Homo sapiens: one gene and its partners. The main gene of each other region encodes a partner of the protein of the gene in region 2 in a complex. Each region holds a gene or a part of one and is shown on either strand. Other genes may lie near its edges.

Region 1 (7,659 bases), about 22 Mb from region 2:
CTGTATGTTTAAAATTACTATCTTGCTTTGTTTTCAAAACTTAAAGCCCTTATAGGCAGCTGTAAGACTACTAAGGACGAAGCAATAGTGTTTAATAACTCCACTTAGGAAAAAGGTTTCTACCCAGGATGCGAGTGTACTTAATCATCCACCAAGTAGCTGTTGAGCCCCTGTCAGGTCTAAGCAGCACTCAGCTGCCCTTGCCTCCTATCGCATCTGCACACCTGGCTTGTAGAGCAGGGTACTAATGAACAGAGCCCAGATTCAAGATGAAGGGTTATCACTCTTCTCCACCAACACTGCCTGAAGCCACCTGCAATTTTCCATCCAGTTCTCCACTCACAGTCAGCCTCCTGCTCCGATATCTACAAGTTGCGTGTCCTAAAATTAGGCAAATAATTTATCCACCTGAAAAATGGGGATAACAGTACCCTCATCATGGGGTTGTTGTAAGGATTAAATGAGATACATCATAGGTGAAATGCTTAGCACAGTGCCTGCCACACAGTGAACAGTTAACAAATGAGTTATTACTGTCACAAGTCTAAAGAGAGGTCCTTTAAAAAGGTGAAGACAGGTGACTGGCAGAGTGCAGTGGCTCAAGCCTGTAATCCTAACACTATGGGAGGCCTAGGTGGGCAATCACTTGAGGCCAGGAGTTCAAGACCAGCCTGGGCAACATGGTGAAACCCCGTCCCTACAAAAAATTAGCCGGGCGTGGTGGCATGCAGCACCTGTAGTTCCAGCTACCCGGGAGTCTGAGGTGGGAAGATCACCTGAGCCTAGGAGGTCGAGGCTGCAGTGAGCTGTGATCATGCCACTATACTCCAGCCTGAGTGACAGAGTGAGACCCTGTGACCAAAAAAAAAAAAAATAAAGTGTGAGGACAAGCACAAATTCATCCCCTATACTGGAAAAACAGCCTTGAACACATGCTATAATAATGATGTTTCAAGCATAGCTTTATTTTGGAGAGAAAATGCATTAACAGATGGAGTACTTACATGAATAAAAGACAATCCAGTCCAAAAACTTTAGAGTTTCAGGCATTGAATACTTGGCTTTCTTCTGTCCCAGTTTATCACTGATTTAACTTCCCTACTAATTCATCAAATCAACAATTTAAATATAAAACAGAGCTCTGTTTATATATTAAAATAGCAAATATATTTCTCTGTACTTTTTCTTTCAGATTACTCGTAATTCAGAAAGGAGAGCTTTTGGAGAAATAAAGGTTCAGTAACCGCAGTTAAGTCCTAGAGTTCAAGATCTCAGCTGATGACTTTTTTACTTACTAATACTGAGCCTTAATCAATTTGAGAAAAGATCTTCTTAAGAAGGGATAGGCTGGGCACAGTTGTTTACACCTGTAATCCCAGCACTTTGGAAGGCCAAGGTGGGAGGATCACTTGAGCCCAGGAGTTTGAGATCAGCCTGAACAACATAGCGAGATCTCATCTCTACTAAAAATAAAAAAATAAAAAAAGCAAGCTGGGGGAGCACGCCTGTGGTTCCAGCTACTCTGGAGGCTGAGGCAGAAGGATCCCTTGAGCCCAGCAGATTGAGACTTAAGTGAGATATAATCACGCCACTGCACTCCAGCCTGGGTAACAGAGCGAGACCTTGTCTCAAAAACAAAAAAAGAATAAAAAAAGATTAAAAGTACTGCATATCTATTGGGGTTACTCTCAATTCACACAATCGGAAAATTTTAAAAACTTTTTTTGAGATCATGAACCACTTTAAGAATCGGCTGCTATGAACTCTCATCTCAGGAAAAGGCATATTCACAAAGTTTTGCACTCAATCTTAGCGGGTCACAGTCATTCAGTGAAGTCATCCATGTCAATTTTTTTTTTTGAGACAGTCTTGCTCTGTCGCCCAGTCTGGAGTGCAGTGGTAATTACTGCAACCTCTGCCTCCTGGGTTCAAGCGAGTCTCCTGCCTCAGCCTCCCGAGTAGCTAGGATTACACCATGCCCGGCTATTTTTTCTATTTTTAGTAGAGACTGGGTTTCGCCATTTTGACCAGACTGATCTTGAACTCCTACCTCAAGCAATCCACCCGAGTTGACCTCCCAAAGTGCTGGGATTACAGGCGTGAGCCACGGCGCCAGCCAAACGTCAAATTAGATTATAAAATATTTCCACTAAATGTGTAATTCTAGAATTAATCATTTTCTGAAAAAAATGTTAATTATCCCTACATATGACTCCTAAGAAGTGAGCATAACCCCTCCCTCAATAGCTTTCCACCTCCAATTCAACACAGGAGGAATCCTGGGTTTTTAGAATTCAGGTCAACAGAGAAGGGTCTTAACATAGTCACATTTAGTAAGATAGACCTTTGGCCTCTCTTTAAGTGAAAGTTCAGTGCAGCCAAGGCACTAATTTCCACCATTGTCTCGACTTAATTTCGTCTTGGGCTGCAAGAATTCATTATTGCTCTTTGCATCACTGTTGTCTGGGACCACTTCAAGTATTTTCAAAGGTTTGATACCGTTCCACTTAAACTCTGAGACCCGGTTTTCTCATTTACCTGACAGTGATAGTAACAGCTACTTCTCAGGGTTATTGTTTAGAGAATGGACGTTTATGGAACACTCAGCAGTGTCTGCACACAGTAAGTGCTCAATAAGAGTTAGCTATCATTATTACGTCCTCACCGGGGCTGTCCCCTTGAGGTTGGATCACTGTGGACTCCAGGAGCTGGCACATGGTACCCACCGTCCGTGACTGGGGTAGGCCTGGGGCCGGAGGAGGGCCCTGGAGCCCTGGGAGTCCCGGGGGGCCTGGTCGACGGGAAAGTTCCGAAGGTGGCCAGGGCTGCCTCGGTGGAGTTGAGGCCCTCTGTCGTCACCGCCGGGGTGGCATCGGTCTGGGCGCTCACGGAGGCCCAGCAGCCCAGGAGCACCACCAGGAGCGGCGGGAGACCTCGCGGCCTCATCTCCCAGGGAGTCCCAGCGAGGCCCGCGACATGGACAGCGCGTTGCCCGGCAACCGCGACAGCCAGGCGCGGGGCATCACGGGAAGGGGCTTGCGAAGCCGCGAGAAGCTGCCGGAGACTGACTGGGGCGAAGCCTGGATGAGGCAGGGGGCGGATCCCGGATGAGGCCGGAGGGCGGCGCCTGGGTGAGGCAGCGATGGCAGGCACAGGGGCGAGCACTAGTGAGCGGGTGTGAAGCTGGCGTAAACGAGGGGCGTGTAAATCCCGGCTGTGGTTTCCAACCGGTCCGCGGCGCTTGCTTAAAAAATGCAGATTTTCTGTAGTTCCAGCTACTCGGGAGGCTGAGGCAGAAGAATCGCTTGAACCCGGGAGGTGAAGGCTACAGAGAGCCGTGAGCGTGCCACTGCACTCCAGCCTGGGCGACAGTGTGACACTCTGTCTCAACCAAAAAAAAAAAAAAAAAAAAAAAAGACGGATTTCCAGGTACCACCTCAGGAGATCCTGAGTCAGTTAGTCTAGGGCAGGACCCAGGAATCAGTTTTTGGGGGATTTTTTTTGAGACAGGGTCTCACTCTGTCGCCCAGGCTGGAGTGCAGTAGCGCGATCTCGGCTCACTGCAGCCTCGACCTCTGGGACTCAAGCAATCCTCCCACTTCAGCCTCCTGAGTAGCTGGGAACTCAGGCGCGCGCCACCATACCCAGCTAATTTTTGTATTTTTTTTTTTTTTTTTTTTTTTTTGTAAAGACGAGGTCTCCCTCCGTCGCCCGGACTGGTATCGAACTCCTGGTTCAAGTGATCCACCTGCTCCAGCCTCCTGAGTCCTGAGTAGTTGGGATTACAGGCGTGAGCCACCACTCCCAGCCAGGAATAAATATTTTTAACAAATGTCCGGACGCAAGCAGATGAGTTGGACGGAAATTTAGGAAGCGCCGTCCCAACGCCACTAACGTGGGTGTTTGGAAGGAGCACAGGGATCTGTGAGATCACTGTCTCTGAATTTTCTCTATCCCAGACTCTGTCAACACTGGCTTCACCTTTTTATTTTAGCTGCATCTCACAAGGTTGCCAGATAACTTCTGTCTGCTGTATTGTGATAAAGGGGACAAATGAACACTTAATACCTTTTATTATTTTTTGTAGAGAGGGGGTCTCACTATGTTGATCAGGCTAGTCACAAACTCCTGGCCTCAAGTGATCCTCCCGCCTCAGCCTCCCAAAGAGCTAGGATTACAGGCATGAGCCACCACGCCAGGCCTAAGAACCTATTTAAAGACAAAAATCTTTTACAAAAATTAAGTAAAATAATTTAGACATCTTAAAGGGGAAAACAAAGCAAATCCACTGTAATGCTACAAAACGACCTGGAGACCCTACGATTTAGGAAACCCTCTCCATTCTGAATGGGCTTATTTAGGAGGTACCCAAGCCCAAGAATGTTGGCTGCACCTTTGACACTTAATCTCCATACAGTTCAGAAGTAGATGTCGAAGTACTTAGACGTGGCCAGGCACAGTGGCTCACACCTGTACTCCCAGCCCTTTGGGAGGATCGCTTGAGTCCAGGAGTTGAGACCAGCCTGGGCAACATGGTGAAACCACATCTCTACAAAAAATACAAAAATTAGCCAGGTATGGTGGCACATTCCTGTAGTCCCAGCTACTCAGGAGGCTGAGGTGGAAGGATCGCCTCAGTCTGGAGAGCTTGAGGCTGCAGTAAGCCATGATAGTGCCACTGCACTCCAAAACAAAAAAACCTTAAACATAACACAGTATTTATTCAAGAAATGTATATACCAATTCAAAAGGATGTCAAACAGTATATATATCTAGTTTATTAAATGTATTTAGCAAAACTAAATCATCAAAGTGATATCTTTAGCACCTTCCTGTGGCATTCCAGAGACAGTGTATAAAAATATAATTGAATCACTCAAATGTGTAAGACAGATACTTCTTTTTTTCTGCAAAGGATTGCTTTAGCATCTGACTGAAATTCTGGACTGCTTTTAATAACTGATTAAATGCTTCCCCTTTTAAAAAAAATAACCAAAAGTAGGCCGGGCATGGTGGCTCACGCCTGTAATCCCAGCACTTTGGGAGGCTGAGGCGGGTGGATCACGAGGTCAAGAGATCAAGACCACCCTGGCCAACATGGTGAAACCCCGTCTTTACTAAAAATACAAAAATTAGCTGAGCATGGTGGTGGGCACCTGTAGTCCCAGCTACTCAGGAGGCTGAGGCGGGATAACTGCTTGAACCTGGGAGGCAGAGGTTGCAGTGAGTCGAGATCACACCGCTGCACTCCAGCCTGGTGACACAGCGAGACTCCGTCTCAAAAAAAAAAAAAAAGTATATTTTCCAAACCTTCATCTCATAACTTCTAAAACCAGGGCCTGTTTGTTTTCCTTTTTAAACCTCTTTACTTCCAGCCCTCTACTTTCTTTCCTATTCCTTAATACCTGTGAACCATTTTGTTCTATTTTCTGTTTTGAAATTTTAGACTGCTGGATTAAATTTTGATAACTCATCCTTTAGCTTTATAATTTTTTTTTTTTTTTGAGATGGAGTCTCACTCTGTCACCCAGGCTAGAGTGCAGTAGCAGGATCCCGGCTCAGTGCAACCTTTGCCTTCCAGGTTCAAGTGATTCTCCTGCCTCAGCCTCCCAAGTAGCTGGGATTATAGGCACCTGCCACCAAGCCCAGCCAATTTTTGTATTTTTAGTAGAGACGGGGTTTCACCATATTGGCCAGGCTGTTCTTGAACTCCTGACCTCAAGTGATCCGCCCACCTTGGCCTCCCAAAGTGCTGGGATTACAGGCGTAAGCCACCACTCCCATCCAGTTTTATAATTTTTGTTATGGTTATAGGACCTCTGAGGTCCTCTTCAAGTCTGATATCCCATTATTCCAACCAGGACCTGCTATGATATGATTTGCCAATTTCACCGCCTCTTTTGTCCAATCTCAAACAAACACGTGGTAGATGGCCCCAAAGTAATTTTATGATATTTGACTCTGAATGAGGATTGCACCTACCCAGATACAGTTTGCAAACATTAGGAACACTGGAACTTTTCATTTCACAGGTGACCCATTTCTGCCAGCCTGTTTTCATCTTTCAACCCAGAACACCCTTTCTCCCTTCCTTTTGTCCCTGGCCTTAGCAGGTTCCCTCATTAGGATGGAAGGACACAAGAGTGGCTAAGATCGAGCTCCATATTGTGCCCAAAACCTCAACATTTGGTTTGTGCATAAATGTTTGTGATTTCAAATATCCATCTGTTTCTCCAGGATTATTGGCATTCACAATTCCTTATAGTGTATGCTGACATTGGGAGGATCAAGACAATTCAGCTTTTTAGAATTCTGTGCTGAGAAGCTGCCATATATGAGAAGTCGCCATATATGAGAAGCCTGAAAGGAAAAAAAATCAAAGATAGGAGGAGTATGTAAGTAGGGAAAAAAAACTAAGGCTAACTTCACAAGGTAGTGTCAACCACTCTGTCTTGCTCTTTGGTGTGGTTTGAGGTGAATTGGTTATTATTGTTGTTGTTCTTGTTATTGCTGAAGTCATGGCTTCCAACCTGTTTAAAATTAATAAATTAGCTGGGCATGGTGGCACGTATCTGTGAACCCAGTTACTCTGGAGGCTGAGGTGGGAGGATCGCTTGAGGCCAGGACGTCAAGGGCTGCAGTGAGCCATGATCACACCACTGCAGTCTGGCCTAGGCAACAGAGTGAGACCCTGTCTCAAAAGAAAAAGTAGAAATTTTTTTCTAGTGATTAGTATATCTATTTTTATTAATCTCTCCCAAACATTTCACAAATGAGGTGGCAGAGTCACAAAGCTTCCTAAAGGGGTTGCTTTAGATCTACAAAGGGATCAAGACTGTGTGAAGACGGAGGATTGGCTGTACCATTTTGACTGAAGTAACTAGTCGGGTAATTGATTTCCAGATCAACGCCCAGAAGAAAATAATCCTCAACTGCTCTCATTCTCCCAGTCCCCACGTACCTCATCAACCACTGAGTACTATTCTTGTTCTTTTTTTTTTTTTTTTTTTTTTGAAATGGAGTCTTGCTCTGTCGCTCAGGCTAGTGTGCAGTGGAGCGGTCTCAGCTCACTGCAACCTCCACCTCCCAGGTTCAAGCAATTCTCCTGCCTCAGCCTCCCAAGTATCTGGGACCACAGGTGCCCGCCACCATGCCTGGCTAATTTTTGTATTTTTAGTAGGACGGGGTTTCACTATCTTGGCCAGGCTGGTCTTGAACCCCTGACCTAGTAACCCACCCGCCTCGGCCTCCCAAAGTGCTGGGATTACAGGCGTGAGCTACCGCGCCCAGCCTATTCTTGTTCTTTAAGTGTTTTCTGAAACATTACGGGGACAGAAGGACTATTTGAGCAGACTTCACATTCTTGAAAGGTCTCACATTTGCATTTGACCTTTTCTAAAAGAAAGTCATACATACAGTCACAGACATTCACCAACAGGAATGAAATAAGAATTCCTTGTTTACCATACAGTTGTTATTTTTTTTTCTTTTTGGGTTTCTTTTTTTTTTTTTTCTTTGAGATGGAGTCTCACTCTTTTGCCCAGGCTGGTGTGCAGTGGCCCAATCTCAGCTCACTGCAACCTCCACCTTCCCAGTTCAAGTGATTCTCCTGCCTCAGCCTCCCAAGTAGCTGGGATTACACATGCCTGCCACCTCACC
Region 2 (7,841 bases):
GAAGAAGATAAAATTCAGCAGTAATTTTTTTTTTTTTTGAGACAAAGTCTTTGTCGCCTAGGCTGGAGTACAGTGGTGCGATCTCGGCTCACTGCAACCTCTGCCTCCCGGTTCAAGCAATTCTCCCACCTCAGCCTACCGAGTAGCTGGAATTACTGGCATGCATTACCATAACTGGCTAATTTTTGTATTTTTAGTAGAGACGGGGTTTCACTGTGTTAGCCAGGCTGGTCTTGAACTCCTGGCCTCAAGTGATCCATCTGCCTCAACCTCCCAAAGTGCTAGGATTTCAGACATGAGCCACTGTGCCTGGCCATCAGCAGTAATTTAATATAAAGCCAGATATTCAGCTTATCTACTTAAATTTTAAATCCTCTCTAACAAAGTAGAAAATGTTAAAGCTATTAAGGATTTAATATCAACCTAACACATAAATAATAGGCCAAAATTTTCAAAACTTAAGGATTTAAGGATTAAACAGTTTCATTTTAAAGAATTAAAAAGAACACACACACAAACTAACCAAAGAATACAGAAACAAATTAATCTGCTCCTCCAAAAAAACCCCTAATAAAATGGTTTTCTGCCCAACATCTTTATTTTACTTTTCTAAGTCATAGCTAGACTATTATTTGCTCTCAGTGAACATAAATTACTTAGAAATATAAGGCAATACAACACAATGGTTAAAAGAAGCAATCTAAAATCACACCGGCCTAGGTTTATGTCCCTCATCAACCAATTTCTAGTAAAGCATGAATGAGTTACTTAACATCTCTTTAACTCAGTTTTCTCATACATGCTGACATAAGAGTTAAACAAGAAGCATACAGAGTTCTTAGAAAAATGATCAGTGAATAGAATAGCAAAAAGTAATACAGCATTCTCTTATCTACATATAAGTGACTTTATCTGTGATTCTTGTTTCTCTGAACAGGCAAACATTATTATAAACATTATGATGCCTTTTTTCACCTATTCTCCAAACCTCATTCCTCTTATGACCTTTCATTTTTCTGGTTCTCCTCTTTATTAAAGGAGACGATAGAATCACAATGGTATACAACGATATTTAAAAAGTCTATAATAAAGAACCAAATGTAGTATGTGATCCTTGACAGAACTTTGGATATTGGAGGTGGGGAGACTGAAGGATATTATTGGGCCATTAGAAGAAATCTCATTATGGACTAGATAATGGTGTTGAATCAATATTAAAATTCCTGAGCATGACAATTATATTGTGTTCATTGTAGGAGAACATCTTTCTTTTTCAAACAGACAAGCTGAAATATTTAAGTGCAAAGTATCATATCTGCAATTAGCTCTTAAATGACTCAGCAAAAAATGTGATTGAACAAACAAGAGACAGAGAAATACATGTGTGTGTAAAAATACTGACAAAAAGATAAAGCAAAGTTGGCACAACATTAAGAACTGGTGAATCTATATGAAGGGTATGTGGGTGGTTATTGTTTTTCTTTTTCCCATCAACTTTTAAGTTCTGGGGTACATGTGTAAGATGTGCAGGTTTGTTACTTAGGTAAATGTGTACAATGGTGGCTTGCTGCACAGATCAACCCATAACCTAGATATTAAGCCCAGCATCCATTAGCTATTCTTCCTGATGTTCTCCCACCCCGACCCCTTGACGGGTCCCAGTGTGTGTTGTTCCCCACCATGTGTCCATGTGTTCTCATTGTTCAGCTCCCACTTATAAGTGAGAACATGCAGTGTTTGGTTTTCTGTTCCTGTGTGAGTTTGCTGAGGATAATGGCTTCCACCTCCATCCCATGTCCCTGCAAAGGACATGATCTTGTTCCGGTTTTTTTTTTTTTTTTTTTTTGAGACAAACTCTAGTTTTGTTGCTAAGGCTAGAGTCCAGTGGTGCGATCTCAGCTCACTGCAACCTCTGCCTTCTGGGTTCAAGTCATTCTCCTGCCTCAGCCTCCCAAGTAGCTGGGACTGCAGGCATACAGTACCATGACCAGTTAATTTTTGTTTGTTTTGTTTTGTTTTTGTAGAGATGGGGTTTCACCATACTGGCCAGGCTGGTCTTGAACTCCTGACCTCAAGTGATCTGCCTGCCTCGGCCTCCCAAAGTGCTGGGACTGTAGGCATGAGTCACCACGCTTGACCTCTCATTCTCTTTTGATGGCTGCATAGTATTCTATGATGTATATGTTCCACATTTTCATTATCCAGTCTATCATTGATGAGCATTTGGGTTGATTCCATGTCTTTGCTATTGTGAATAGTGCTGCAATGAACATATGTGTGCAAGTATCTTTATAAGAAAATGATTTATATTCTTTTGGGTATATACCCAGTAATGGGATTGCTGGGTCAAGTGGTATTTCTGCTTCTAGATCTTCGAGGAATTGCCACACTGTCTCCCACAATGGTTGAACTAATTTACATTAACACCAACAGTGTGTTTCTTACAATCTTTATGAAGATATGACATTTTTCAAAATAAAAATTTAAAGAAAGTTTATAATAAAATGCAAACTACAATACAAATTTTAGAAGTTTGCCTATCATTATTATTATCAATTGAAAGTTAATAATCCCACTGTGTTCTGAATTGGGAAATTTTTACAAGAAGAGAAGCCAAGAACTTAATGCTAAAGCATTTAATGCTATTAATGTTTTTTTCCCTTGTCTTCTCAAACATCACACTCTGTTTCTCCTTTCTTGAGCTTTTCCTTGAAGCACTCTTCCTATTTCATTGCTTTATTAGACATTTCTCAGAGACGTGCCTTACAATCACTTCTCTGGCTTCAATAATGTCTACATTGATGATTCATAAATCCTCATCATCTGTACAGGGTCTCTTGTGAATTCCATATCCACAGATACCCTTTTTGAATATGCCCAGAAGAACCTCAAACTCAACATCTACAAAACTGAAATAATCTCAAGCTTTCCAAATTCCTCTTGTGTTCCTCCTTAATGAATGGCACTATCTACCTATTTAGTGGCCCAACCCACAAAATTAGGCAGACTCTCCATCCTCCCTCTCCTCCAACAACCAATTACATTCACCACATCCAATTACATCTACTTCTCTCACACTTGTCTTTCTCAGGCAAATGCCATCATTAGCACTTCCCTGAATTAACACAAATGTTTCCTTACTAGTCTTGGCCCTTTTCAATCCACTCTCTACAAAGTACAGTAAACTTTTAAAGTATAGATCTGATCATGATATCCTGTGCTCAAAACTCTTCACTGGCTCCTTTCAGGAAAAGAACCAAATTCATTAGGAACTGGCCCTTGCTTATCTCTCCAGAGGATCATAAAAAATAAAACTGGGAAGGCAAGATAGCACAGACTCTTGAGTAAGACTGTTTTCAAATCCTACCTTTACCATTTATAAGCTGTGCAACCATGGGCAATTACTCTTTCTGTGTCTCCATTTCTTCATCTGTATCATGGCAGAAATGACAACTATCTCATATGACAAGTATCAAATAAGCAATAATGAATTAATGCATATGAAGTGCCTGGCACATAGTAAGGACTCTATGAAAGCTATTTTCACTTATATTTCAGTCAAAATGAATAACTGTAGTTTCCTAAATACTCCATAACATCTCTTACCTCTAGGTCTTAGCAAATGCTATATCTTCTACCCAGAATGTTCTTTTATTAACCACCATATATATCCTCATTCCTCTTACCAGTCTAACTATACTTCAGGTCTCAGTTTACAGATCACATCCTGCACCTCAAGGCTGATTACGGTATCTCTCTCCAGAGTATGCCAGAATATGACCTTATGTATCTCCCTAAGTATCATATTATCACTATGTTATGCTTATTATTGACTATGAATATTCTTGAGAACCAGAACATAGTTGCCCACTATATCACTAGTAACTAGCAGCCTCTGGTATGCTGTAAAGACTCAATAAAACTGAATGACTGGTTAACGGCAAAGAAGTAATTGCCAAAGCAACCCATACCCATATTTCATCTCAAGGAATTGAGCAGCCAAAAAGGAACACAGGCCATATATTCAAGTTTTCTCTGTGTGTGACTATGAAAAAAGACAATAGTCTAAGATATAAATGGACAAGGTAGTTCTGATTAGCTAAGGGTGTGTGGTATGAATGATAAGTCAACTGATACAGGTCTATATAGAAGAACAAAAGTCCAGAAAACCACAGACATCCCCCTAAGCAATTCTACCAGTGTATATTATAAGTTAGATCCTTGATGACTATTAAAAAATCCACATGTCTGCTATGTTTTGCAGTTAGCTAAACAGATAATGCTCTAAGAGCTTCTTCCTAACATTTAAGTGGCATCGATCCATACTTTCTCTACCACATTGTTTTCATAGCTAACTTCTATATGATTCTTCAACATTTTAGAGTAAAATACATACATGAAGAATGGGGATACTTTTCCTTACAAATCAATTTATGATACATTCTCTTAAATAGCATATCATTGTTTTCTTAAAATGTATGACCCTCAATTTCTGAGAGAACAATGGACAAAATAAAATAAATGGAATATAACACAACAATGACCTAAAGGACACAAAGGTGGAAAACGTTTCTGAGTATAAGGGACAGGACAGTTACCACATGTAGGCACCAAATTTTACTAAGTTTACTAACAGTTCAGGTGAAATAAAAAACAAATAAATGTTAAGTAAATAAATAAATAATACATTAAATAGGAAGCTGAGGTAAAATAGGAAATTTTCTTCCAGGAAATACAAGTTGATCTGCAAAAAACTTTTTTCCTAAAACTAAATTCAAGTGAACACTGCAAGAATTATTAGTTTATAACAAGGAATAACGAGGTAATAAAAACTATGCATTAAAAATGTTATTTTAAATATGTGATTTATAAACTGCTGACATGAACACAACTTTTCAAAAACTATACATATATATATATATCTCACATAAAATAAGGTACAACCAAAAACAAGATATTTAATTAACCATTATTGAATATATCGAAAGATTCATTTGCGAATCTACTAATCATATAAATACATTGAAATGAACAAATATAACTTTTACCCAAAATAAACTATGGCACTAGAAAGATCACTTCTTTATGAAAATCTATTAGTTACTTGATACCAATCTTCCAGACAAAAGCATTAATTTTAGGTAACAAGTTTGATGTCCTGAGAAAAATGTACTTCCAAATATAAAGAATTAATCTTCAAGTCATATTCACTAGAAGTACCATTATATTTTAAAATTGGTGATGACAAAATGAACAGTGATATAAAACCTTAGAGATAAGTGTACATCATTTTTCAAATATAACATACAATATAAAAATTGATATTGTTACCAATAATAATAAAAAGCCAGGTAACTTGAACAGTGAAGATTCATGGAAAAAAAAAGTGCTTTACTTGCTCATTAACTTTCTTCTCTTTCTCCAACTCCTTTTCCATGTCCTCCAATTCTCTATCTTTTTGTTCTAATTGTTTTTCAAGTTGGCAAATTTCATTACGTAAAAACCGAGTATCTCGTCCACCTGCAGACTGCTGAGCCATCTTAAAGTAATAAACCCAAAGTATAAATTAATCCCATTATATTTTGAGGTTCAAATGAGTCAACAACAAGCAAATAATTATGCTGAATTTAAATTTGCATTATACTTCAGTGCAGATATTTAAAATCATATTAGCTTAAGAACTTTTTTTTTTTTAATTTAACTTACTTAAGGTTAGTTCACAGCTAATAACTCCTTAAATTTTTCCTGAGCCACCCAGAGATGCAAAGAATTGACTGTTAATCATTCTGTTGTAACCACTGGGCCACAGGTAACCAGACTAAACTGCAAAGGTTCCTGAGCCTCAGGGATCTGGAACCTGAGTACAAACCATCAGAATCTCCACCCCAGTCAGTGAAGCTGAGTGCCTTAACCTGCCCTTTCTCTCATACCATGCACTGTTTAGACCAGTGCTGTCCCATAGGACTTTCTAGCATAATGGACATGCTGTCAGTGCTGTCCAGTTCAATAGCCACTCGCTACATGTAGCTATGTTCGGGCATTTGAAGTGTGGCTAGTGCAACTGAAGAACTAAATTTTTCATTTTAATTTTAACCAATGTAAATATAAATAGCTACAAGTGGTTAGTGCTAGTGCTACCATATTAAACAGCTCAGGTTTTGGTTATCTTAAGATTTGTAGCCGATTAAATCCATTTTACCTCACAGTCTTGTTAATTCAGGTCATGGCCAAGAACATCAAATCATTTGGTCATCTAATGTGTCTCACATTCATTTCTTCACCTTATAGTTCTGTTATTCCTCTACCTTAACCAAATTGTTCTTACTCTTTCTCTCCTCCAAAAAGCATTCCATTGTGCTCTCTAAAATTCTCTTCCAAGATAAATTAATATTTCACATCCTCAGATTCTTTACTGAATCCTCCTTTCCATCTCCTTGGCTTAGCTGCAATTTGGATCCTTTAGTATACTAATGCCCTTGGAACTCTTTCAATTGGAAGGTGCTCATTCTTTCAGATTCCAAATACATGAGGGTCAGAAGAAGGTGTTGGTGCTTCTAGGTTTACCCCACCCTGCAACTTCAGGTGATCATTCCTATCATTCCTCCATCATCCTATAGAAACTTCAGCTGCTTTCTCACAAAATATCCTGCTCTCCATCTTTACCTACTCATGGTAGAAACAAGCCACCAACCTTCCAGTAACTCCGCAAAATGCACTGGGAATTTAAGCATGTGGCCCACAGATGTCTATCAAATGCCCACTAAGCAATCTCCACATAACTTTTGTTCTAGTCTATTTTTTTCTTGAATTCACTATAGTCTCTCACTCCCACACCCACATCAGATCCTTGTCCAACCAGAACATTCTTTCAATTATTCCCACTATGCCTGTCCTTCGACCTCACAGGACACTCTAACCCCTCATCTTCTCCCTCCATATCCCTACCCTTCTGCCCACCCAACCCCAATCTTGATTTTATCTATTCAGTTAAGACTTCATAATCATCACTTCAACCACTTTCCTACCAATATCTTCAACTGTGCTACCCTTCTATTCTACAGCAGCTACCTAGCTAAACACTAACACAGAACTGATCCAACTCCATAATTCATTTAGTATTTATTGAAAGTGCTTGGCATTTTCCCAGGAGCTGGATATACAATCAAAAACAATAGGTCATCCAAGTTCAGAGAGTTAACGAGTAGAAGAATCAGGACTAGAACTCAAATCTGTCTGACTCCAGATCCCCAACTCTCCAGTCCTGTCTCCAATATATTTCAAATTTTACCTAATTTCCTTAAAATGTGACCACACCATTTCCCACTCTTTTTAACAGAAGATGTCATCACCAACCCCTCAACTTCCAAGCATTATGCCTACAAACATAAAAGCCTCTATACACATCCACTCTTCCCACGCTCATCCACTCATCCTCCTCTCCTAACACAAAGGAAAAGGGTATTCCTCCTTTCAAAGGCTGATCCATTTGTATCACATTCCTACCTTCTCAGGAATCTCAATGTATTTTGTTCTTCAACAATACATTCATATTTTAGCCTTCAGCTTTGTCAAAAATTACTTCTATAACACCCTTTCGTCACTATTCCTCAAATCCCCACCCACCCTCCACCTCAGTTACTAGTAATCTTTCTGTATATTTCCCAAGACTATAAGCTCCATCCAGCAGTTAACTTCTTATTTTGTTCACAACCATATGCTCAGTCCTTAGTACTATATAAGGCACATAATAGGCATGTAGAACATATACAGAATAAACAAATAACCATGATTACAATCATCCTTATAATTTTTCCAGCCAACAATAATTTTAAAATTTGAAA
Region 3 (7,431 bases), on a different chromosome or scaffold from region 2:
AATCTTGGTGGCCTTCTTTTGATTTTCTGAATTAACCCTGCTCCTTCAAATATCAGGGTTTTTGCATATATTGTACCCTCTACCATAGACCATTTCTTCCCCACCGGTGGCAATGTGTCTCTTCCTCAGGAATGTTTTCCCTGACCCCACAGTTCATCATCCATCCTATACCTCTTTACGATATTTATAAAAATTTATAATTAAATGATAAATTGTGAAATCAATTGTTTTATGTTTGTGTTGCTGGAATATGAAGTCCAGGAGTTCAAGGAATTTGTCATCTTTGTCCACTGACAACAGTAGCTGGCACATAGAAAAGTCTTAATATTTTTTGAACTGAATAAATAATGGCATGGCTGTTTGTGTCTTTTTTAATGCTACATCCTCAGAACCAAATAGTGTAACTGGCACATACTGGGCCATCAATAAATATTTAAGAATCTGAATGAGCATAACCTGAGCTTGAATTAGTAACTCTTCATCCCTACAACATTACCTTAGATTCTAATTCCTTATATGAGACCAAACTGATTTGGGAGAAAGCAGCCAACTAAATTTGAAGACTAGTTTTAAAGTGTTTAAAATGGATGAAAAACATACCTTAAGAAATGCCCAGGCAATTTTCCGAAAGCCACATTCTTGGTTTTGAACCTCAGAATTATTCTTAATTTCATCCACGCTTAAGAAATCAAGAATCTGCAAATAAATTCACAGAAGACTAAGCTACCTAAAATTTAATATTTTCTAATGGTACATTATTAAAACTTTAAAAAATCATTTGTATAGTGCTTAAAAACATTAACCTTTACAGGGAATAAAAACATTTTTATCTCATTTCATTCACCTTAAAGTTAACTCATTCAGTTAGGGAGGGTCCATTTTCTGACTATTTTATCTTTCATTAATAAATACTATGATTTATTTCAAATCCAAAGCAAAGTGTTAATCACCTCAAATATAACCTAGGTACAAATATAATAGGCATAGAATTCTTAAGCTTTCATTGTTTTTTATGTATCACAGCAGACTTTAAAGGATTGTTTGTTTAAAAAACTCACAACCCTATTTCTGGGTCTTTGTCTTGGATCACCTTCCTGAAGTTGGGGTTTTTCTCTTTGGATGTATGTTATAATTAGGCTTCTCAAGAGGATTTCTTCCATTCCTCTATCCTGTCTGGACATTAAAGCTCATGGATTTGCAACCAACCTGCCACAGAGATCGTATTCTAGATATTTATCAAAGGCTATCACTTCAAACTTACTGGTGCTTATTAAAAGCTCAGCTGCGAAAATGAGATTTTTATAGAAAGAAGACTGCTTAAGAAATGATACAGACTCCAATCATCTGTGCTTTTTGGATACCTAAATCTTTTTTACAGATATAATACATGCTCAGTGAAAACATAATATAAAAAATATATAGATCCAAAGTAAAAACAACTTGTAATCCAGACCCATAGATGGTCACCATTAACATCTAGTTTGCAGGCCAAATCTTTTTCTGTGCATTCCTAAACATATGTGTGGAACTACAAATCTAATAATGCTATTTCACAAATTATTTTCATATAGTATGTAGTGAATATCTCTTCATGTCAATACATACACATGAATACCGTAATGTTAATGACTGCCTACTATTCTGTCACAAATACCATAAATTTAACAAAAATTATAACTTATTTAACCAAATCTCTTACTGATCTAAATGTAGGTTATTTTATCTCCCTAAAATTTTTGCTATTATAAACAGTGCTGAAATAAATATCCTTGCACACACATCTTCACGGACTTGTCATTTTTTTCCTTAAGATAAATACCTAAGAGTAAAATAATGGTTTTAAAGACTGTGAGACATTATCAAGTTGTCCTCAACACTTAAAAAACTGAGATCAAAAAGCAGTTGCATAGGCAATAACATATTACATTAAAACTTAAGAAGCAACCAAAAGCGTTTATAATACAACAATCTATCCTTCTTCATCTCTTAATACTAAAATGAATACAGAAGAAAATTGTAACAAATGACAAAGTTTGAAGACAAAAAATTCCTTAAGATACAAATTATATCAATTTTTCAACAATAACAGCTTTATGTAAATCACACACAACATAATCACAAATGTAAATATTGGAATATTTGTATCATAAATACAAATAGACAACCTGAAAGTCAAGGATCATAAAAACAAGTAATTCTACAAAATGAATCTTCGGCACTGGTTATGCCAAGTCCCCTGCTGTTCCCATGCTAAACTTCTCCATCTAGCTTACACTGGAAGGGGGCTTTCTCTATTGTCCTTTGCTTATGGAGACAGAACACATGATAGAGTAAAGAAATGTGGTATTCTAGGTTCAAACTATCTGCAAACGCATTTTTTTTAACTTAAAATTCGAGTAACTTTGGGGAAATCACTTTTATTCCAAACCTTGTTATCATTTTCAGTAAGAAAATTATATAATAACAACTAGTCAGCTCAAAAGCCATGTATTCCATAAAGCTTTCCCTGACTCCACTGACCCGCCACTAACCCTTCACATATAAGTTCTACATCATTTTTGGTTACATATTAAACTGCATTAACTGATCTGTGTACATTTATCTTTATTTATCCAGGTGGTACACATATTCTTAGGGTGCCTGACATGGTTAAATGAGTTTATGCTTTGTGAAATGGGTTTAAAATGGAGAAATGCATTCATATCGAGTGGATTCATCACTTCACTACAGTTAACAGTCACAGAGCTGTTGTAATTATTAAATTATACAAAGTAGGCCAAATGGTTAAATAGTAAACACTCAGCAAATATGCTATCACTGTTTATAAAAGGGCGTCTCACTTGATTCCACAGCATTGGAAAACTAAATCCTAGAGATTAAATTCTCACACAACTTTTTTTTTTGCCTTACTGGACTACTAAAAATAATAGCTTACATTTGTGCTATTAAATATTAACTATCGTTTAATTTGAATTGGTCCATTCAATTCATACCTCAAAGAACAGGATGACTTTAGGACTCTCATCAGAGCCTCGAAGCAAATAGGGAAAATTTTCATTAAATACAATTTGTTCTTCCCACTCTGGAAGTCTTGATTTTAACTGTTTAAAATCATATGGCTGGGTCATAATAGGAAGAATATAATCCACATTCTCTTTTTCATAGTAAGATGAAACAGGCCGTCCACTGTACAAAAAAAGATACTTCCATTAACACAATTTTCATAATTTTGAGGTGAGAAAAAAATATATAGTGTACAAGGTGAGGCAACCAGAAATAATGAATAGTCATAATAATACAAAAGGAAAAATTATTCTGAGTGTCCATCTAGAAACTTACAAATTTTATAAGACTTAAAAGTAACAGTCCATCTTATATTTGTCTACTATCAATTGGTTTCACATGATTATTTTATTATAGAAATATAAAGTGAGAAGTATGATTATACCTTTGCCATATAAAGCTGGGATAAACTAACTCCTTCAGAATTTTGTAAGAGTTTATAATAAAATAGACATTGCCAGGCACAGCGGCTCAAGCCTGTAACCCCAGCACTTTGGGAGGCTGAGGCAGGTGGACTGCTTGAGCTCAGGAGTTTGGGACCAGCCTGGGTAACATGATGAAACCTCGTTTCTACAAAAAATAGAAAAAAAGTTAGCTGGGCATGGTGGCACATGTCTGCAGTCCCAGCTACGTGGGAGTCTGAGGTGGGAGGATCACCTGAGCCCAGGGAGGTTGAGGCTGTAGTAAGCTGTGATTGCACCACTGCACTCCAGCCAGTGAGACGCAGTGAGATATTGTCTCAAAAAAAAAAAAAAAAGACATAAAATTGATTTTACATAAAAAAGGCACAAGACTGTAAACCCTTTGAGTTGTCATATTTTCTTTGTGTGCCCTAAGGCAAATGAATAGGTGAATGGGCTTTTTTTGGACAATCTTCCTGTTTCCATTCCCCACTGGCTTTCCAAACAATTTTTTAAAAAATTCTAGTATAAATGTGTATTTCATTGTACTTTTCATTTGGGATTTCAAGCATGCATTAGCTATAGAAGTACTCTTAGAAAAAACATTCAAGATTCATTTACCTTACCTGAAGCCCAGATAACATTACTTTCAAAAGAAAAATATGAGGTTAGACAATTAAAGCATTTACAATGCAATATAAAATATTTACAATGCAACTTTATGTCATAAATTACATCTACTAAGCTGGCAGAAGCTCTCTACCACTTAAAATGAATTATTCCCTTCCACTTAAAAGTAATTACTGAGCCAGGCACGGTGGGTCATGCCTGTAATCCCAGCACTTTGGGAGGGTGAGGCAGGTAGATCGCCTGAGGTCAGGAGTTCGAGATCATCCTGGCCAAACCCCGCCTCCACTAAAAATACAAAAATTAGCCAGGAGTGGTGGCGAGTGCCTGTAATCCCAGCTACTTGGGAGGCTGAGGCAGTAGAATCGCTTGAACCCAGGAGGCAGAGGTTGCAGTGAGCCAAGATTGAGCACTGCATTCCAGCCTGGGCGACAAAGCGAGACTCCATCTCGGAAAAAAAGTAATTACTGAATTAGATGTTCTCCATTTCTTCTACAACATTCTGATCAATGTTAATGACTGATGAACACCTACAACTAGTAGACTATTCTCTAATACAAATCCATAACTCTATTCCCACTGACTTTCAACTACCAATGGCAGAAAAAAGACTTCTACTAGTTTCAGTTTCAAGAATTAGTTGTGCAATTAAAAAAAATTACCTATCATCTTTCTTGACATATTGACCAGTATGCTCATCAACCACATGAATTTTTACCATTGGGTGAGAAATCATAAAATCTGACTTAAGTCTATCAGTTCGGTGAATGTAAACTCCCAAGACAAGGTCATCATCAAGCAAACATTTGGGATAAACCGGGCTATCTCGGCTTGTTATTTCATGAACACCATCACCATCAACATCTTCATTATTATCTGCAACTACACGCATGGAAAAAAAAATCAATGTTATAATTAGTTGTTCCCATAGTAGTATTTACATATAACCTAATCTTTAAGATCTGTGATGATCTCACTGTGTTCAAAGGAACTTCAGGGGGAAAGAAAGAAAAAGCCAGACAACAGCAAACCATAGTGTGAAAGTAAAATACTACATTTGCTAATACATTACAAATAAGGTGAAAAATCCTTGTTTATATTTTTCCTAATAAGTAGGAGAAACACAAAAAGAAAAAAAAGAGAGTCAAAGTCAGAAAAGTAACTTTATCCAGGTATTTTCTAAGTAGAATATATATGACAACTAGAATTTCTAATTCTGGGTGGGATGCAGTAGGATGCAGCAGGTAAACACTTTGGGTAACAACTGGAAAGAGCCAAATAAATTACAAATATCTTATTTTAAATTTTAAAGGCATCAGAAAAGTACAGAAAGAAGATATAGTAGACAGATTAAAATTCCAGAAAGGGAGAATCAGTCAGAGGTCAGCTGATGGACTGGCAGCTGTTTTTGTCTCTGGGGACATTTGCTGATTCAGGGTGTGAGCTGAAGATGAGAGTTTGGCTTAGGCAGAAAGTCACTGCCAGGAGAATGAGAAATAAGCAAAACTTTTAGTGATTCCACAGGACTAAAATGATAAAACTGGAGATTTGAGAAGCCTCAAACACATGACCAATTCTTCTCACAAAACTGAATTCTGATGCTACAGAGAAGCTAGAGAGGTAGTGAAATCTCCCAGGCTTGTGGTGCTAGCAGACCATGATCTGCCAGGGGAAGGGGACCAAAACAAAATAGGCAAAGGTGAAGCCCTGGAGGGTGTGGTCAATTTACACTAAGGACCAAGAGCAACTTTTCATCTGGGGTCATCTACCAATTCTGGTCACAGTTCTAGGTTGATAATCCAGGTGTGATTTCTGGCAGAAGGTTGCTACTGAGGGACAGAGAAACCAGCGGATATTTTGGCATGCTTGGGGGCTACAGTGACAAAAATGGATACCTGAAGGATGTCTAACATATAGCCAGTCTCCTGCTCAAAGAATTTGCCAAATTTTGAAGCAGCATGAGACAGAAGACTAAATGGCTAAGTGGAAAAGCACTGAAGGGCAAAACTGGATCTCCCATCGTATTTAGGGCTATGAATTATTAGAGATAAAGAAGGGCGCTGCATTATGATAAAAGTGATAACTTGACAAGAGATACAAGAAAAATAAACTGAAAATCGGAATGGAAATGTTAATACCTCTCTCAACAGCTGACAGAATAAGTAGACCAAAAAAATTAATAAGAAGAACTGAGCACAATTAAACTTGACCTAACTGACATACATAGGACACTGCACTCAACATTAGAAATTGCATTCTTTTCAAATGAGCATGGAATATTTACCAAATCTGACCATAAAATGGTCATTAAAAAGGCCTCAATAAACTCAGAGGATTGAAATCATTCATAATATGTTATCTGACAACAATGGAAGACAGAAACCAATAAAAGATAACTAGAAAAGCATCTGCTGCCTGAAACTAAGCAACATACTTCTAAATAATGATCAATTAAAATGGAAATTAGAAAATATTTTGTGTTAAATAATAAAAACACACAATATTAAAAATTTTGGAGATGCAGGTAAAGTAGTACTTAAATGGGAATTTAGTCTTAAATGCATATAAAAGAAGACTGAAATCTTTCTTATAAAACCCAATTTTAAAGCTAGAAATAAGTAGCAAATCAAACCCAAATAAGTACAAAGAAGGAAAATACAGTTACAAGAAAAAAAATCACTAAAATAGTACATAAATGTACAACAGAGAAAATCAAAGCTAAAGGTTGGTTTTTGAAAAGACTCATAAATTTAAAATCCTAAGGCTGATCAAGAAATTGAGAGAAAACAAACTGCCAATACCATGAATGAAAACATGGGACAGCCTTTCAGATGCTATAGAAATGCAAAATTTGGATGAAATAGACACATCCCTCAAAAACTACAGTATATCAAATAGCTGACAGAAGTAAAAAAAAAAAAAAAAAAGATTGATAATAAAGAGATTAAATCTTGATTTGTATCAAGGCAAGCAAAATGATAAGGCATAAGGACTGAAAAAGAAGCGATAAAACTATCGTTATTAACGTATTACATGATTGCATATGTAGAAAAATCCAAACAATGTAAGAATAAACTCTGTGGGCCGCGATAGCTCACATCTGTAATCCCAGCACTCTGGGAGACTGAGGTGGGAGAACTGCTTGAGCCCAGGAGTTTGAGACTAGCCTGGAAAATGTAGTGAGACCTTGTCTCTACAAAAATTAGCCAAGAATGGTGGTGCATGCCTGTAGTCCCAGCTACTTGGAAGACTGAGGTGGGAAGATCGCTTGAACCTGGGAAGTATAAGTTGCAGTGAGCTGAGATCACGCCACTGCACTCCAGCCTGAGTGACAGGGCAA

The links. The genes of interacting proteins can lie anywhere in the genome.
Region 1: CEP290 (region 2) and TCTN1 share a complex: the UniProt entries of both Homo sapiens proteins name them as parts of the tectonic-like complex.
Region 3: CEP290 (region 2) and AHI1 share a complex: the UniProt entries of both Homo sapiens proteins name them as parts of the tectonic-like complex.

The regions. Positions count from the first base shown.
Region 1 is NC_000012.12:110,609,470-110,617,128, reverse strand, and holds the start of TCTN1 (tectonic-1 isoform 1 precursor), read right to left. Parts: upstream 3,001-7,659; 5' UTR 2,947-3,000; coding exon 2,727-2,946; coding exon of another isoform or gene 2,666-2,726; intron 853-2,665; exon of another isoform or gene 817-852; coding exon of another isoform or gene 777-816; intron 382-776; exon of another isoform or gene 225-381; intron 1-224. UniProt on the Homo sapiens protein: Component of the tectonic-like complex, a complex localized at the transition zone of primary cilia and acting as a barrier that prevents diffusion of transmembrane proteins between the cilia and plasma membranes.
Region 2 is NC_000012.12:88,131,248-88,139,088, forward strand, and holds part of CEP290 (centrosomal protein of 290 kDa), read right to left. Parts: intron 5,540-7,841; coding exon 5,396-5,539; intron 1-5,395. UniProt on the Homo sapiens protein: Involved in early and late steps in cilia formation. Its association with CCP110 is required for inhibition of primary cilia formation by CCP110.
Region 3 is NC_000006.12:135,452,741-135,460,171, forward strand, and holds part of AHI1 (jouberin), read right to left. Parts: intron 4,974-7,431; coding exon 4,754-4,973; intron 3,187-4,753; coding exon 2,994-3,186; intron 697-2,993; coding exon 601-696; intron 1-600. UniProt on the Homo sapiens protein: Involved in vesicle trafficking and required for ciliogenesis, formation of primary non-motile cilium, and recruitment of RAB8A to the basal body of primary cilium.